Homo sapiens: one gene and its partner. Each later gene encodes a partner of the first gene's protein in a complex. Each region holds a gene or a part of one and is shown in the gene's direction. Other genes may lie near its edges.

What was found. Proteins that work in one complex are often made in the same cells at the same time.
Region 2: the proteins of BCL9 (region 1) and CTNNB1 are in contact, whole or in part, in a crystal structure (PDB 3SL9), measured with the Homo sapiens proteins. Residues at the interface, in NP_004317.2 of Homo sapiens: Asp349, Leu351, His358, Arg359, Ser362, Leu363, Thr365, Leu366, Ile369, Gln370, Met372, Leu373; in NP_001091679.1 of Homo sapiens: Leu148, Arg151, Ala152, Glu155, Leu156, Leu159, Asp162, Asp164, Val166, Val167, Lys170, Ala171, Met174, Leu178.

The regions. Positions count from the first base shown.
Region 1 is NC_000001.11:147,614,397-147,618,145, forward strand, and holds part of BCL9 (B-cell CLL/lymphoma 9 protein), read left to right. Parts: intron 1-30; coding exon 31-220; intron 221-1,406; coding exon 1,407-1,506; intron 1,507-3,749. UniProt on the Homo sapiens protein: Involved in signal transduction through the Wnt pathway. Promotes beta-catenin's transcriptional activity.
Region 2 is NC_000003.12:41,223,356-41,227,104, forward strand, and holds part of CTNNB1 (catenin beta-1), read left to right. Parts: intron 1-665; 5' UTR 666-713; coding exon 714-726; intron 727-834; exon of another isoform or gene 835-966; intron 967-1,170; coding exon 1,171-1,398; intron 1,399-1,598; coding exon 1,599-1,852; intron 1,853-1,978; coding exon 1,979-2,217; intron 2,218-2,304; coding exon 2,305-2,506; intron 2,507-3,749. UniProt on the Homo sapiens protein: Key downstream component of the canonical Wnt signaling pathway.

The DNA.
Region 1 (3,749 bases):
TTTCTGTGACGAGTCATTTTATTCTTTTAGAATGTAATTCTGCTGACCACATAAAGTCCCAGGATTCCCAGCACACACCACACTCGATGACCCCATCAAATGCTACAGCCCCCAGGTCTTCTACCCCCTCCCATGGCCAAACTACTGCCACAGAGCCCACACCTGCTCAGAAGACTCCAGCCAAAGTGGTGTACGTGTTTTCTACTGAGATGGCCAATAAGTAAGTTGATGGCTGTGTCTTGCTGTTGGGCAGGGCTTGTCTGGGGACCTAAATTCTTATTCCCATTGCAGATTGATCTTTTATTATCACCTAAAGTTAACAGTACAGATAAAACATAAAACCTCCCCAACCCAAACTCCCCCAGAGGCAACCACTGATAATACATCCTTTGCTTCCCTTTCAGAAATTTTTCGTGCTTGTACAAATATACATATATATCTCTTTTTCTTTTTTTTTTTTTGAGATGGTGTCTGTCTCTGTCGCCTAGGCTGGAGTGCAGTGGCAGATCTCGGCCCACTGCAACCTCCACCTCCTGGGATCAAGCAATTCATCTGCCTCAGCCTCTTGATTAGCTGGGATTACAGGAACCCGTCACTACACCCAGCTAATTTTTTGTATTTTTTAGTAGAGATGGGGTTTCACCATGTTGGCGAGGCTGGTCTTGAACTCCTGGCCTCAGGTGATCTGCCTGCCTCAGCCTCCCAAAATGATGGGATTACAGGCATGAGCCACCGCGCCTGGCCATATATACCTCTTTTAAACAGAAGAAGTTGATTGCACAATACACACTTTTCTGCAACCTACCTATTATTATTTTCTAAACAACACAAGTAACAAATGTCCATTCTAGAATAATTAGAAAGTATAACTAAAAATTAATATCTCTGGAATTCACAGAGATAACTACTGTAAACATTTTTATATATAAATTTTTAGTGGATGGATGCATCAATTTTTATTTATCAGAATTGTGATTATACCCTACATATATGGTTTTCTGACTTTTTTTCCACTTAAGATAAAAAGTGAATCTTAACAGCCTTAAACTATCACTAGGTATTGTACGATCTCATCTTCCCCCTTCTTGGGTTGGGATTTTGAACTCGGATTCTCTATAAAACACCTACCACAGCGGATTAGTTTCAGGAGAAAATCTTGGTTTTTGTCTTTTAATGCCTCTTTTGGGATTTGCTAATGGCTGTCTTTTAATTTTAGAAGTTTGATGATAAGTGGTAAATATAAATAATGAAACATGTTTGTCTTGATTTCTTCTTCAACATTTCTGGTGGTTCTTTCTATTCCTTCCTCTCCCTTACAAGTTTATTGTGTGGTTAAAGTGCTTTGGAATTACAGTTAGTGAAATAGAAACAAGTTCTAGTGTGTGCTGTCTCTTCCATCTTTGCAGAGCTGCAGAAGCTGTTTTGAAGGGCCAGGTTGAAACTATCGTCTCTTTCCACATCCAGAACATTTCTAACAACAAGACAGAGAGAAGCACAGCGCCTCTGGTATGTTGTTTCAGAAACTGAGTAATGGTTTAATGATTCTACAGTGACTGCAAAGGAAAGGAGGTGGTGAATTTAATTGATAGGAAGGTAGTCTTGATGGCATGAGTTGCATTCTTGGCATTTAACCTAATTCTGGCATTGTGGGGCATTAGGCATATCATACTATACTAGCCTTTTCTACGAGAAAGCTGGTAGATTGATGAATTACTAGGGGGAAGAAGATGCAAACTAAAAGAGGAGCTATACAGATATCTTTGGGTTTCCTTCATGTAATCGTCTCTGGGAAAATCTAAATTCAGACCCTGTGTACAGAGCAGGTTTTTTAAAAATAACACTCTTGAGCTAGTTGAATAACAAAGAAAGAACAGAAAAAAAGCAACAATTAAAACTTCTAGAGTACATGATGACAGTATCATAATCAGAGCCTCATCGACTTTCAGAGTGATTCATATTTATTTCAAAGTGATAAGACCATTGAATGTTTTTAATTGCTTGATATTTGTAAAATTGTAATAAATGTTAGTCTGTTTTCTATCTGGATCTTAAGCACCTGCTATAAACTCCATTAGAAAAAGCATACAGTGGCCGGGCGTGGTGGCTCATGCCTGTAATCCCAGCACTTTGGGAGGCCGAGGCAGGCGGATCACAAGGTCAGGAGATTGAGACCATCCTGGCTAACCCAGTGAAACCCCGTCTTTACTAAAAATACAAAAAATTAGCCGGGCATGCTGGCGGGTGCCTGTAGTCCAAGCTACTTGGGAGGCTGAGGCAGGAGAATGGCCTGAACCTGGGAGGCGGAGCTTGCAGTGAGCCGAGATTGTGCCACTGCACTGCACTCCAGCCTGGGTGATAAGAGTGAGACTCTGTCTCAAAAAAAAAAAGCATACAGTGGATGTTTTAATGCATGTAGTTTACCAAATTGAACCAAAAGATACTTCTTGTATCTGGCATCGTCAAGCCATTGCACCAAATGCTATGGGGGATACTAAGAAGTTCAAGACACAGTCCCTGCTTTCAGGGAGCATGAAATCTAATACTGGGATGAGTCTTAAACATGGGAAAAGTTAATTGACAATAAATGATCAAAGTGACAATTCAAGATAAAATAGGTGACATCTTTCCTATTTTGTGTATCAGAAAAGTCTCCATCTTTGTAGACATAAGCAGAGCTTAGGCCTTCCTAAACTTAGAAAAGGAATTTCATATTCCCCATGCATCTTGACTACTCAAGGGTAGAAGATGCATACAGTTATATTTAAAATGCTTATTGTCCTGGAATGAATATAGTACAGTGTAACTGAAACCAACCTTTTATTGACTTAATGGCAGTTCTTAATACCTACACCTTAATACCTACACCTACACCTTCTCTGGTACTAAAATCAGGAAAGGAGTTAAGGAAGGAATTGGGAATAATCCATTGTTCCACATCTAAATGTTTTCTGACGTCATGGTTTCGTTATATGAAATCAGTATCCACCCACAACAAACAAAACCTGACCAACAAAACCAAACTTAAAATGGCACTAGAAGGAAAATCAAGGTGACCTCTACACTCCAGTTAGGAGTGTGGATATGAAATATACTTTTAACTGTACAGAATCATACAAGATTCAGCTGATCTTACCCACACAACTCTTTACCTATAGGCAGAAGTGCATGGATACCTCAAAATCCAACATTTATATATATATTCACAGAATATAAGTGCTCAAAGATATGTTTTCATGTGTATACAACACAAATTGTTCATATGCAGAGATACACGTAATTATTTGTTTACATATTTGCACACAGGTAAACATTCCAGAGAGTAGGTGAGGAGGTAAGAGCCTGAAGGGTTTGGAAATACAGACTGGATTAAGCGAACAAGTAGGAGCAAATGAACACGGAAAAAAGGGTCTGGAGAAAGGCCTTTGGTGAAAGGTCTCTGAGACAGGGTTTGTAGATCAAGTCCTTCTGTTCATCAGTGCCCTCTTATATTTCAGCAGTGCTCTTGGTTTAGACCCAGAACATACACATCTCTCTTCCAAACATTCAAGGTGTCCATGTCACCTATTGTAGGTGAGTGTGCTTCTACCCTGGACTTAGTATAGCAGTGGTACTTAATAAACAATAATAAGGCAATCATCCAGCATATTAAAAAAGGGCAGTCTACTGCCTATTGGAAAGAACAGTTCAAGAGACACCATGAGCTAGATAGCCTCAGATTTCTCCACAGAAGCTTCCTGCCTGCAGATTAT
Region 2 (3,749 bases), on another chromosome or scaffold:
ATGTATCCATATTGGTAATATTTGTATTTATAATAAATCATTGCTGTAAATTTGAACTTAGAAAAATTTTACTAATAAAGGTGCTTTTGTGTTGCAAACTTTCATTTGAAAAGTAATTTTTCTTTGTACCAAAAAATCTAAAATTCGCTATTCTAGTCACCAAAATTTGCTTTATGAAAAATAATTTTTGATGGCACTATATCAGAAAACAACTTGTTAAAGAAAATGTGGAGTTTTTAAAATCCCACTGTACCTCTGTTATCCAAAGGGGATCTGTGAATTTTTCTGTGAAAGGTTAAAAAAGGAGAGACCTTTAGGAATTCAGAGAGCAGCTGATTTTTGAATAGTGTTTTCCCCTCCCTGGCTTTTATTATTACAACTCTGTGCTTTTTCATCACCATCCTGAATATCTATAATTAATATTTATACTATTAATAAAAAGACATTTTTGGTAAGGAGGAGTTTTCACTGAAGTTCAGCAGTGATGGAGCTGTGGTTGAGGTGTCTGGAGGAGACCATGAGGTCTGCGTTTCACTAACCTGGTAAAAGAGGATATGGGTTTTTTTTGTGGGTGTAATAGTGACATTTAACAGGTATCCCAGTGACTTAGGAGTATTAATCAAGCTAAATTTAAATCCTAATGACTTTTGATTAACTTTTTTTAGGGTATTTGAAGTATACCATACAACTGTTTTGAAAATCCAGCGTGGACAATGGCTACTCAAGGTTTGTGTCATTAAATCTTTAGTTACTGAATTGGGGCTCTGCTTCGTTGCCATTAAGCCAGTCTGGCTGAGATCCCCCTGCTTTCCTCTCTCCCTGCTTACTTGTCAGGCTACCTTTTGCTCCATTTTCTGCTCACTCCTCCTAATGGCTTGGTGAAATAGCAAACAAGCCACCAGCAGGAATCTAGTCTGGATGACTGCTTCTGGAGCCTGGATGCAGTACCATTCTTCCACTGATTCAGTGAGTAACTGTTAGGTGGTTCCCTAAGGGATTAGGTATTTCATCACTGAGCTAACCCTGGCTATCATTCTGCTTTTCTTGGCTGTCTTTCAGATTTGACTTTATTTCTAAAAATATTTCAATGGGTCATATCACAGATTCTTTTTTTTTAAATTAAAGTAACATTTCCAATCTACTAATGCTAATACTGTTTCGTATTTATAGCTGATTTGATGGAGTTGGACATGGCCATGGAACCAGACAGAAAAGCGGCTGTTAGTCACTGGCAGCAACAGTCTTACCTGGACTCTGGAATCCATTCTGGTGCCACTACCACAGCTCCTTCTCTGAGTGGTAAAGGCAATCCTGAGGAAGAGGATGTGGATACCTCCCAAGTCCTGTATGAGTGGGAACAGGGATTTTCTCAGTCCTTCACTCAAGAACAAGTAGCTGGTAAGAGTATTATTTTTCATTGCCTTACTGAAAGTCAGAATGCAGTTTTGAGAACTAAAAAGTTAGTGTATAATAGTTTAAATAAAATGTTGTGGTGAAGAAAAGAGAGTAATAGCAATGTCACTTTTACCATTTAGGATAGCAAATACTTAGGTAAATGCTGAACTGTGGATAGTGAGTGTTGAATTAACCTTTTCCAGATATTGATGGACAGTATGCAATGACTCGAGCTCAGAGGGTACGAGCTGCTATGTTCCCTGAGACATTAGATGAGGGCATGCAGATCCCATCTACACAGTTTGATGCTGCTCATCCCACTAATGTCCAGCGTTTGGCTGAACCATCACAGATGCTGAAACATGCAGTTGTAAACTTGATTAACTATCAAGATGATGCAGAACTTGCCACACGTGCAATCCCTGAACTGACAAAACTGCTAAATGACGAGGACCAGGTAAGCAATGACATAGCTAGCTTTTTAGTCTGCTTTGAAGTAAATGCTCAAGGGGAGTAGTTTCAGAATGTCTACCCAATACCAGTACTTGAAAACTAACGATGTTTCTGAATTCCTGTATTACAGGTGGTGGTTAATAAGGCTGCAGTTATGGTCCATCAGCTTTCTAAAAAGGAAGCTTCCAGACACGCTATCATGCGTTCTCCTCAGATGGTGTCTGCTATTGTACGTACCATGCAGAATACAAATGATGTAGAAACAGCTCGTTGTACCGCTGGGACCTTGCATAACCTTTCCCATCATCGTGAGGGCTTACTGGCCATCTTTAAGTCTGGAGGCATTCCTGCCCTGGTGAAAATGCTTGGGTAAGAAAACATGTCAGAATGCTTGAAGCTAAAAAGTAGAAGAGTATACTCACAATATTTCTGATGAGGCTTTTTTCTTCTTCCCAGTTCACCAGTGGATTCTGTGTTGTTTTATGCCATTACAACTCTCCACAACCTTTTATTACATCAAGAAGGAGCTAAAATGGCAGTGCGTTTAGCTGGTGGGCTGCAGAAAATGGTTGCCTTGCTCAACAAAACAAATGTTAAATTCTTGGCTATTACGACAGACTGCCTTCAAATTTTAGCTTATGGCAACCAAGAAAGCAAGGTAAGAGAATTATTCTTTATGTGGTTTTCATGGAGCATTGGACACCTCCAGTGTCATGTCATTCCATGCAGTGTTCCTAACCTTTTTGGCACCAGGGACCAGTTTCGTGGAAAACAGTTTTTCCATGAATGGGTTGTGGGAATGGTTTCTGGATGACACCATTCCACCTCAGATAATCAGGCATTAGATTCTCATAGGGAGCGTGCAGCCTAGATCCCTCGCATGTGCAGTCCACACTAGGGTTTCTACTCCTATGAGACTCTCATGGTGCAGTTGATCTGACAGGAGGTAGAGCTCAAGCCAGGTAATGCTCGCTCACCTGCCACTTACCTCCTGCTGTGCAGCCCAGTTCATTTCTGTTCTTTTAAATTTTTGAGTTTCCATATGTAAAGCACTATGCGAAGTAGTAGGGATATGGTAGGCAAGCTTCTCTTCACACTTTTGTTCTTAGGTGGGATGTAGATGTTGGGAATAATAACCTAATATTTAATTTGTGTAGTGGGAAGAAGTGGGGCTATGAGGGCACATAACACAAGTTGAAACTGACTCTTTTTGAGGGTTCAAGGAGACCTCTTGGAGGAAGTGATAGTTGAGTTCAGTGTTCAAGGATGAGAAGGGATTCACTAGGTGAAGGTTAGGTGAGAAAACAACATCTTTGAAACGAAGGAAGGAGATGGAAAGTTTTGGGAATTTAAGAAATACTAATAGTAAGGAGGAAGAAAGGTTTGAGGTGAGGCTATTGAGATAGACTTAGCAGATCTCATAGGGCTTTGTAGAGCATGTTTAAAAGCACAATGGGAAATTTCAGCAGAAGCCTGAAATGATGAAATTTGTTTTTAGAAAATTGGGGCAGTGTTGAAAGGGAAGATATACAGGGAATGAAAGGACAAGCATGAATGATCATTTTATGGTATCTGTTTTTAAGGTGGATATAATTAGGAAAATTAAAGGGCCAAATGATGAGGAGTTAAGTGCCAGTTCTGGTTCAAATTTTCAGTGAATCAGTTTTGATATAACTTTCATCTTAGGGCATTACTCTTGCCTACCAACATAGTTTCTAAATTTTTTTCTTTTGGTGTGATCACTGTGGGAAGAAGGAAATTGGGCCCAAACTGATACATTGTTTGGAGGACTGGGATGTCTGAATTTGAGTGGAATGCTTTAAAAGGACAAGTTGGATAGGGCCCCAGTATGGGGGTCTGAGTGATGGGGTCCAGGAATACATTTAGGTCCAATGGCAAGC